2 linked regions of the Homo sapiens genome follow. The protein of the gene in region 2 purifies or fractionates together with the protein of the main gene of each other region. This does not show direct contact. Each region holds a gene or a part of one and is shown on either strand. Other genes may lie near its edges. The genes, in order: FAM98A and ESPN.

Region 1 (3,811 bases), on a different chromosome or scaffold from region 2:
TCATCTTAAGTAAGCATTATTATCAATATTTAAGAGAATGTAAAGCAATCTGAATAATATGTATTTAAGATTACTTGGAGTGACAGAAATCTTATATTTTAGAATATTGGTGATTGGAGTTCATTATGACTGTCATCTTTTATGAATGTTTGAACATTTTTAAATTTTTTAAAATTATATTGGAATCACTTACAAAGGATTAGGATTCAGATGCGCCAGTTCATTAACTGCCAATATTTATTAACCTAACCTGACGTTTCTTTGGTACTAGAATGTCTTACTAGTCTTAACTGGCATTAAATTTATAAAAATGATATAAATGGTTAACTGGAAAGTTTTTACTTTTAAAGGAAGTCATTAAAAACCTAACTAAGCCTGGGCAACATAGTAAGACCCCTGGCTATTTTATAAAAAATAAAAAAAAAGCCAGGTTTGGTGGCTTGTGCCTTCACTGCACTTCAGCCTATGTGACAGTGCAAGACCTCATCTCAAAATAAAAACATAATCTAGTTGTTTTCTGGAAAATTTTTAGAAAAGATAACCTAAGTTTTATTTCTGAAATAAGTTACAGTATAATTAGCTATTACTTGTTAATTTGCTTTTAATACTCAATTCAATTACAGTAAGAAAATAAATCTTTTTACAATGGAAGCTTTTAGTAAATGTACAGAAGTTGACATAATTTAGTAGTATATGCAATTCTGTTAGATATTCACCTACATTTTGAAAGGTTGAAATGCAGCTACCATTTAGCTGCTTTTTGTAATGGTTCAGTATAGTTCTAAATTATGTTTATATTTGTCCATTTAAAATAAAGATAAGTACTAACTTATCTTTATTAAATTATTGCTTATATAAATAAGACATAGATATGTTTTATCTGTAATATATTAGGTATGATTGTATTTTCTTCTGAAATGTAATTTCTTGCTCACCAGTTACAAGGGCCCATTGTTGGAAGATGGAGCGCTCTCTCAGGCAGTCTCTGCTGGAGCCAGTTCCCCCGAGTTTACCAAACTCTGTGCTTGGCTGGTGTCTGAATTAAGAGTGCTCTGTAAACTAGAGGAAAACGTGCAAGCAACTAACAGTAAGTAAACATTCACTTTTAGGTACAAAGTATAAAAATAACATTGAGGTATTGTCAACTGAACATTATCAATACTAAAGCTGAAAGTTGCAAGTTTTTGTAAATGTAAAAAATTTGTAAAGAAGCCAAGATTTTTTTTCCGTCCGTTGTTTTTAGAGGTGATTCAGAAGTTGAAATACCAGAATAAAGTCATGTAACTTAAAAATTCGTGGATGCTGAAAAGACCCTATTACTGGGATACAGAGAAATGGAGACCACAAGCATAGAATGTATGAACTTCCTATATTTTGTAAGATGTTAAATGTAAGATCCTAGATTGATGGCTAGAACTAGATACTGGGATATTTTTCTTTTAGGATTACCAGATTCTAGAAGCATCTATAGCATGTAGAGTAAATGCATTATTATTCTGTTATGCTTGGGGAGAAAGAGAACACTTTGTTAAGACATTTTGTTTATCATAAGAATGCATCGTTAGATACATCACAGTGAGATCCAGGACAATCAAATTTATGGATCTGAGAGCTGTTCTGCATTTACCAATTTTGTTTCCACTGTTGCACTAGTTTGTCGACACTGCAAAAGAGGCAAAAGCTTGGAACCTACCACTCTACCATCTGGTTCCTTCCTGCTGTAGGTAAACCTATAATAGGAGACCAAGGAAAATACTCACCTGTTAACCCACCCTTATGGAGAGCTATACATATAATTCCTTTTTTTCCACATAATCACGTTTTGAAGAGCTCACCTTCTTGCATGCTAGTGTGTGTGTGTGTGTGTGTATATATATATGTGTATATATATGTGTGTATATATATATGTGTATATATATGTGTGTATATATATATGTGTATATATATGTGTGTATATATATATGTGTGTATGTATGTGTGTGTGTGTGTGTGTGTGTGTATATATATATATATAATTTTTTTTTTTTTTTTTTTTTTTTTAACTTTATGTTCCGGGATACATGTGTAGAACATGCAGGTTTGTTACATAGGGATACGTGTGCCATGGTGGTTTGCTACACCTATTGACCTGTCCTCTGAGTTCCCTCTCCTCACCCTCTAACCCGCAACAGGCCCTGGTGTGTGTTGTTCCCCTCCCTGTGTCCATGTGTTCTCATTTTTTAACTCCCACTTAGTGGTGAGAACATGTGGTGTTTTTTTTCTGTTCCTGTGTTAGTTTGTGGAGGATGATGGCTTGCATGCTGGTATATTTAATGTGTACGTGTTAGTTGCATTCAGTTCTAATTATTAAGGAGAGTATAGTGTAACAGTAATGATAGCAACAGCTTACATTTATTGTGTACTCACTATGTTCTAAACACTTTATATGTGTTAACTCATTAAACCTCAGGGCAACCCTATGAGGCAGGTTTTATTACTGTTATACCTTTAACAAGAAAGCCCAGAGAATTTAAATACATTGCCTGAGGTCATACAACCTGTAGGGGTGAAGCCTGGTTTCAACCCCAGAACAGTAGTCAAGTTCTGAGCCAGTGTGCTTGAACACTGTGCTATACTGCCTCTTGACCAGATGTTTGAGAGACTGTAGGAACCTTTGAAAACACCAGTACTAGATGATACCTCTATTTAACCTGGAGCCCCTTTTTCTCAAATGAAACATGATACAGAAGCTAACATGTAAAACAGGTTAGAAGGTATTCTAACAAAGTAGAGACGAGGTACCTTTAGCCCAGCTCTTTCCTCCTCATCCTCCCAGCTGCCTCTAAAAGAGCTCTGTGGAACTCAAGGGCTCACAGATCACAGTTTGCAAAATATTCATAATGTAGGCTTCCTGTATTACAGATTAGAAAATGGACTCAGGTGATCAAGTGACTCTCTCAGAGTTTGTTAATTTCTTCCCCTTTGTGATAGTGAATAGAGAACAATCAAAATAATGAAGAAAGAGCTTTGTTTTTCCTTTGGTTCACCCAGTGAACTCTATACCTTTTTTTATATGCTGTGGGAATACAAGACTGTAAGTCATGTTTGCTGTCTTCAAATTTTTTCTAATTGAGAATGTTAGGCACAAATTAAACAACTGGAGATAAGTACAGTCCTTTTGTTTGTTTGTTTTTAGACAAGATCTCACTCTGTCACCCAGGCTGAAGTGCAGTGGCGCGATCTGGGCTCACTGCAACCTCTGCCTCCCAGGTTCAAGCAATTCTCCAGGTCAGCCTCCTTAGTAGCTGGGACTACAGGCATGTGCCACGACAACTGGCTGATTTTTGTTATTTTTCTTAGAGACGGGGTTTTGCCACGTTACTCAGGCTGGTCTCGAACTCCTGAACTCAAACCATCCACTCGTCTCGGCCTTCCAAAGTGCTGGAATTACAGGCATGAGCCACCGTGCCCGGCCAAGTACAGTACTTAAATGCTGAACCACTTTGTGGTTCACAGAGAGAGGAAATCAGCAAGTACGAGGGTGAAGTTTCAGCCAAGTACAAGGAAGGTTTCATCAAGGAGCAAGGCCACTGGGCTTTGATGGATGGGTGGGATTTGCTAGAGGGGAAGAGAGTAGAGGACATATCTGTCACAGGGAATAACTTAAATGAAGGCACAGAGTGGAAATAAGACTGGCTATTCATGGGACAGTGAGGAGACTGGCCTGGCACACACAGGAAATATTTGTGGAGGGAATGTAGGTGATTATAGCTGAATATGCTAGGAAGAACAAACCTAAGCAGCTATGAAGAATCTTTAAAAGCAGACAGAA
Region 2 (3,811 bases):
GCACCTCCTCGCTGTGCGCCATGCCCGGGCGTGCGGCCAGCGTCTCGCCGGGGCAGCGGCCCAGCTGCCGGTAGTAGTCCCCCGTGCTGGGCTGCTTGCTGAAGGCGCGGGGCTTGCGGCTGGAGTCCTGCCTCCGCAGCCCGTCGTGGCCGTCACAGGAGCTCAGCTGCGGGAAGACAGTGACCGGTGGGGCTCGGGCACCTGCCCGGTAGGCGCCCCCCACGCCTCCCCACCCAGCTCTTCACCTCCTGGGGACTCGCGGCCAGCGGCCGTCGAGGGGTGCAGCAGCTGACTTCCTAGACCCCCTGGTTCTCACAGTGGGCAGCGGGCGAGGGTCATGGGGGCCTCGGTGGAAGGGCAGGCTCCGCCCGCCTTACAGGGAGGGGTTCTGGGCACCGGCCAAGGGGCACAGGGGCCCCCACTGAGGCCAGAAGAGGCGGGCCCAGGGGCGGGGTGGCCCAGCCCCGACGCCAGGGGGAGCTGGCGAAGGGGCACCTCCCAGCTTAGCCCTCACTAGGCCCTCGGCCGCACTCCGCTCTCGGCTGTCAGAAGGACTGCGGGTCCCCAGGGCTCCGCGGAGCCCTGTCTTTCGGGGGTCCGGGGCCGGAGGGAGCCCCCTCCAGAGCCTGTGCTCTCGGAGGCTCCGGCTTGCCACGGACCCCGGTTGCCCGTCCGGGGGCTGCTCCTACCTGCCACGGTGCTGGTGGCCCCCGCTGTGCACCTGGCTGTGGGGGCGGCAGGACCCGACACCTGCGTTACCTGATACTTCCTCTCAGGTTACAGCCACCCGCGCACAGCCAGCCTATGGGCTCCGACGGCCTGACATCACCCGGGGCCCGCCAATCCCAGGCTGAACCCCCCCAGCCGTCGCGGATGCCACAGGGGGCGCCAACTACTTTGCCACACCTGGCCGCGGCTCTGCACCCGTCCCCGGCCAGATGTGACCCCGCCCCCTGCGCCTCTCCCTAAGCTGGGAGCTGAGCCCCCACCTTCATCCCCGCCCGAGAGGGGAGAGGGCTGACTGTGGGCAGAGGAGGCCTCTCATATTTGGCCCCCGGCTCCGGGTCGCGTCCCCACCCTTCCCCTCCTGCATCTGGAAACCATCGCCATCCACGAAAGCGACACCGACACCCGCGCTCAAGCCTCGGATTTCAGGGGCCGTAAGGCGGGGTCGGGTGACAGCGTGGCTTCCCACCCCATCGCAGCTGCCCCCAACTAGGCCCAGCTCAGTGAGGGAGAGTGAGGCGGCCGGGCCAAAGACTGAGTGACCGGGTGGGGGCTGTCCTCTGCCCCACTCTCCAGCCCATGCGTCCCTGCGGTGGCCTCAGACCCTTCACCCCGCCCGACCTGGCTCACGTTGCAGGAAATGCGACACCGCAGGATTTGTTTTCTGGGCCAGCCCGCCCGCTCCGCGCCCCCTGCAGCCCGGAGGTTCGGACGCCACGACCCTGCTCCCGCCCCCGGTCAGGCACCCGCGCGGGGGGCGCCGCGGCGACACAAAGAGCCCTTTGTGGAGCGTCCGGGCCCCGGCCCTGGCGCCTGCGGCCCAGCACGCACACGGCCGAGATGGACGCACATAGCCGGGAGGGGCGCACACAGTGGGGAGGGGCGCACACAGCCGGGAGGGGCGCACACAGCCCGGAGGGACGCACACAGCCGGGAGGGGGCTCACACAGCCAGGAGGGGACCACGCAGACCTGGCACTTGGGCTCAACGGTGGAGACGGGGCACTGGCTGGGCCACCTGTCCTGTGGATTTGGGCGGGGCCAACAGTCTGCGTTGGGAACTCAGCGATTCCAGGGCCCCCTCTGCCTCCCAGAGATGAAAGGGGAAGCCACTGTGGGAGCTTGGTCTAAGGTGGCATGAAGAGGGCAGCTACTGGAGCTGGCCTGCAGGTTCGGTGTCCCTCCCATGCCTCCCTTGCCCAGTGGCCTTGTGACCCGAGTCACCTTTTATGAATTGGCCCTGGGGTGGCTTTGCCTTGGGCTTGAGAACTGCAAGGTCCCAGGCTCCAGCAGGACCCCAGGGGGCTGCCACACCACATCTGGCCACCTGTGACCTCAGGCTGTCCCCTCACCTCTTAGACCATCCTTGCTCTGTTCCTATGGCCAGAACGCCAGTGTTCCCCAGGGCACCCTGCCCGGGATACCCGGAATTGCTCAGACCAGACCTCTGCCCCAACCCCTGCTCCAGAGCCTCAGCCAGGGGCCTGCAGGCCCCAGACATCCCTAGGCACCTCACACTCCACCTGCCCACCCTGGCCTCATCCTCTCCACACAGGCTCGCTTCCTTCCAGGGCTCCCAGCTCAGGCCTGGCCCTTTCCCCCAGGAGCTCAAGCCCTAAACTGGAACCAGCCACAGCTTCACTTCCACCCAGCCCTGCTAGTGCCTGCTCACCTTCCCCCCACCCTCCTTCCAGCCCTCACCTCCACAGCCATGCCACTGGCACCTTCCACCTGGCAGCCACCTCCCTTGGGTGACACTCTCCGACTGAGCCTGGGGCTGTGGGGGTGGGGGGGCATGCTTGGGGAGGGGCAGTCTCCATGCATTCTCTGTCAACTCCATGACAACCCGGCCACTCTGTGCAAGAGGTGGCACAGGCCCAGTTCCTGGTGAGGCACAGCTGTCTGGACCTGCGTCCTTCACCCCCCAGCTCCCATGGAGGGCAATGACCTGCTCTTACTCTCCTCCCAGTCCAGTGTCCAGCCCTGACCCCTTGTGGGACTCGCCAGGAGCTTTGACTCTTGAACATGCCATGGACCCAGGGATCCCCACCCTATGCCCACTAGTGAGGCCAGGCCTTTGGCCTCACTGGCCCCCATCAGCCCAGTCCCCCTGCTGGGAGGCAGGCAGGGGGTGAGGGCTCACTACCTCCTTCTTGAGGGCCTCTGTCTCCACGTGGCGGAGTTTGTTCTTGGTCTGCATGTAGATGTCAGCTGCCTGTGGTCCTACAGGAGGCTTGGGAGCTGGGTAGCCAGGTGGGGGTGGGGGCAGTTGGGTGCCTGGGGGCGGGGGTGGCGGGGGGAAGCTGGGTGGGGGTGGTGGGGGTGTGGGCTTCCCAATCGTGCCCCGAGGCAGGCCCAGCTCCGGGTTCAGCATGTCCATGTAGCTCTGTATGTCTGCAGCTCTAGCGCTGGAAAGCCCTGGGGAGGCAGAAGGAAGGGCCAGATTTGGGAGCATGCAGACAGGCTGTCCCCCAAGACTGAGACTCTCCACCACCTGGAAACAACTTGCCGAGGGGCAAGGTGGGCTCCGGGCACCACTTGGTACACCTGCTGTGGCCCCTGGCGGTGCTGGGCTTCCCCTCCCTGGCCCTACCCTGCCCCAGCCCAGCACTTACTGGGGGAAGACCAGGCACTCCGGTTTGGAGGGGAAGCACTGGAGGCTTTGGTGTGTCTAGAGGGCAGGGTCACCTGGAAGGGGAGGGTCTACTCCTTGGGAGTACGGATGGCCACATCCAATCTTTGCAGGGCACCCCTGCCAGGTCTGGAGGCCACCATCTGGCGGCGTGAAGCAGGCATTGCAAGTGGACGGACGCCCATGCTCAGGGCACGGTCAGGGTGTGTGTACACACAAGCCTGCAGTCTGCCGAGGCGATCGTGCATTTGTGTATGTTTGAGGGGGTACGCATTTGTGCACATGCTTCTTTGTACTGATGAATGTGTGTGCATTGCTCTGTGGACATGGTGTGTATGTGTGTGTGTGTGCGTGCATATCTGTAGTATGGAAATAGAGCACTGTGTGCTTGCTTGTGTGTAGGGTGGGTGTGTGCAGATATTCGCATGGCTCTGTGTGTTCATATCTGTATGCT

What was found.
Region 1: the proteins of ESPN (region 2) and FAM98A purify together in Homo sapiens (affinity purification with mass spectrometry; one large-scale study listed by BioGRID and IntAct). This does not show direct contact.

What each region holds. Positions count from the first base shown.
Region 1 is NC_000002.12:33,592,765-33,596,575, reverse strand, and holds part of FAM98A (protein FAM98A), read left to right. Parts: intron 1-938; coding exon 939-1,087; intron 1,088-3,811. UniProt on the Homo sapiens protein: Positively stimulates PRMT1-induced protein arginine methylation. Involved in skeletal homeostasis. Positively regulates lysosome peripheral distribution and ruffled border formation in osteoclasts.
Region 2 is NC_000001.11:6,444,996-6,448,806, reverse strand, and holds part of ESPN (espin), read right to left. Parts: intron 3,144-3,811; coding exon 2,872-3,143; intron 2,503-2,871; coding exon of another isoform or gene 2,383-2,502; exon of another isoform or gene 1,759-2,382; intron 780-1,758; exon of another isoform or gene 690-779; intron 338-689; exon of another isoform or gene 246-337; intron 167-245; coding exon 1-166. UniProt on the Homo sapiens protein: Multifunctional actin-bundling protein. Plays a major role in regulating the organization, dimension, dynamics and signaling capacities of the actin filament-rich microvilli in the mechanosensory and chemosensory cells.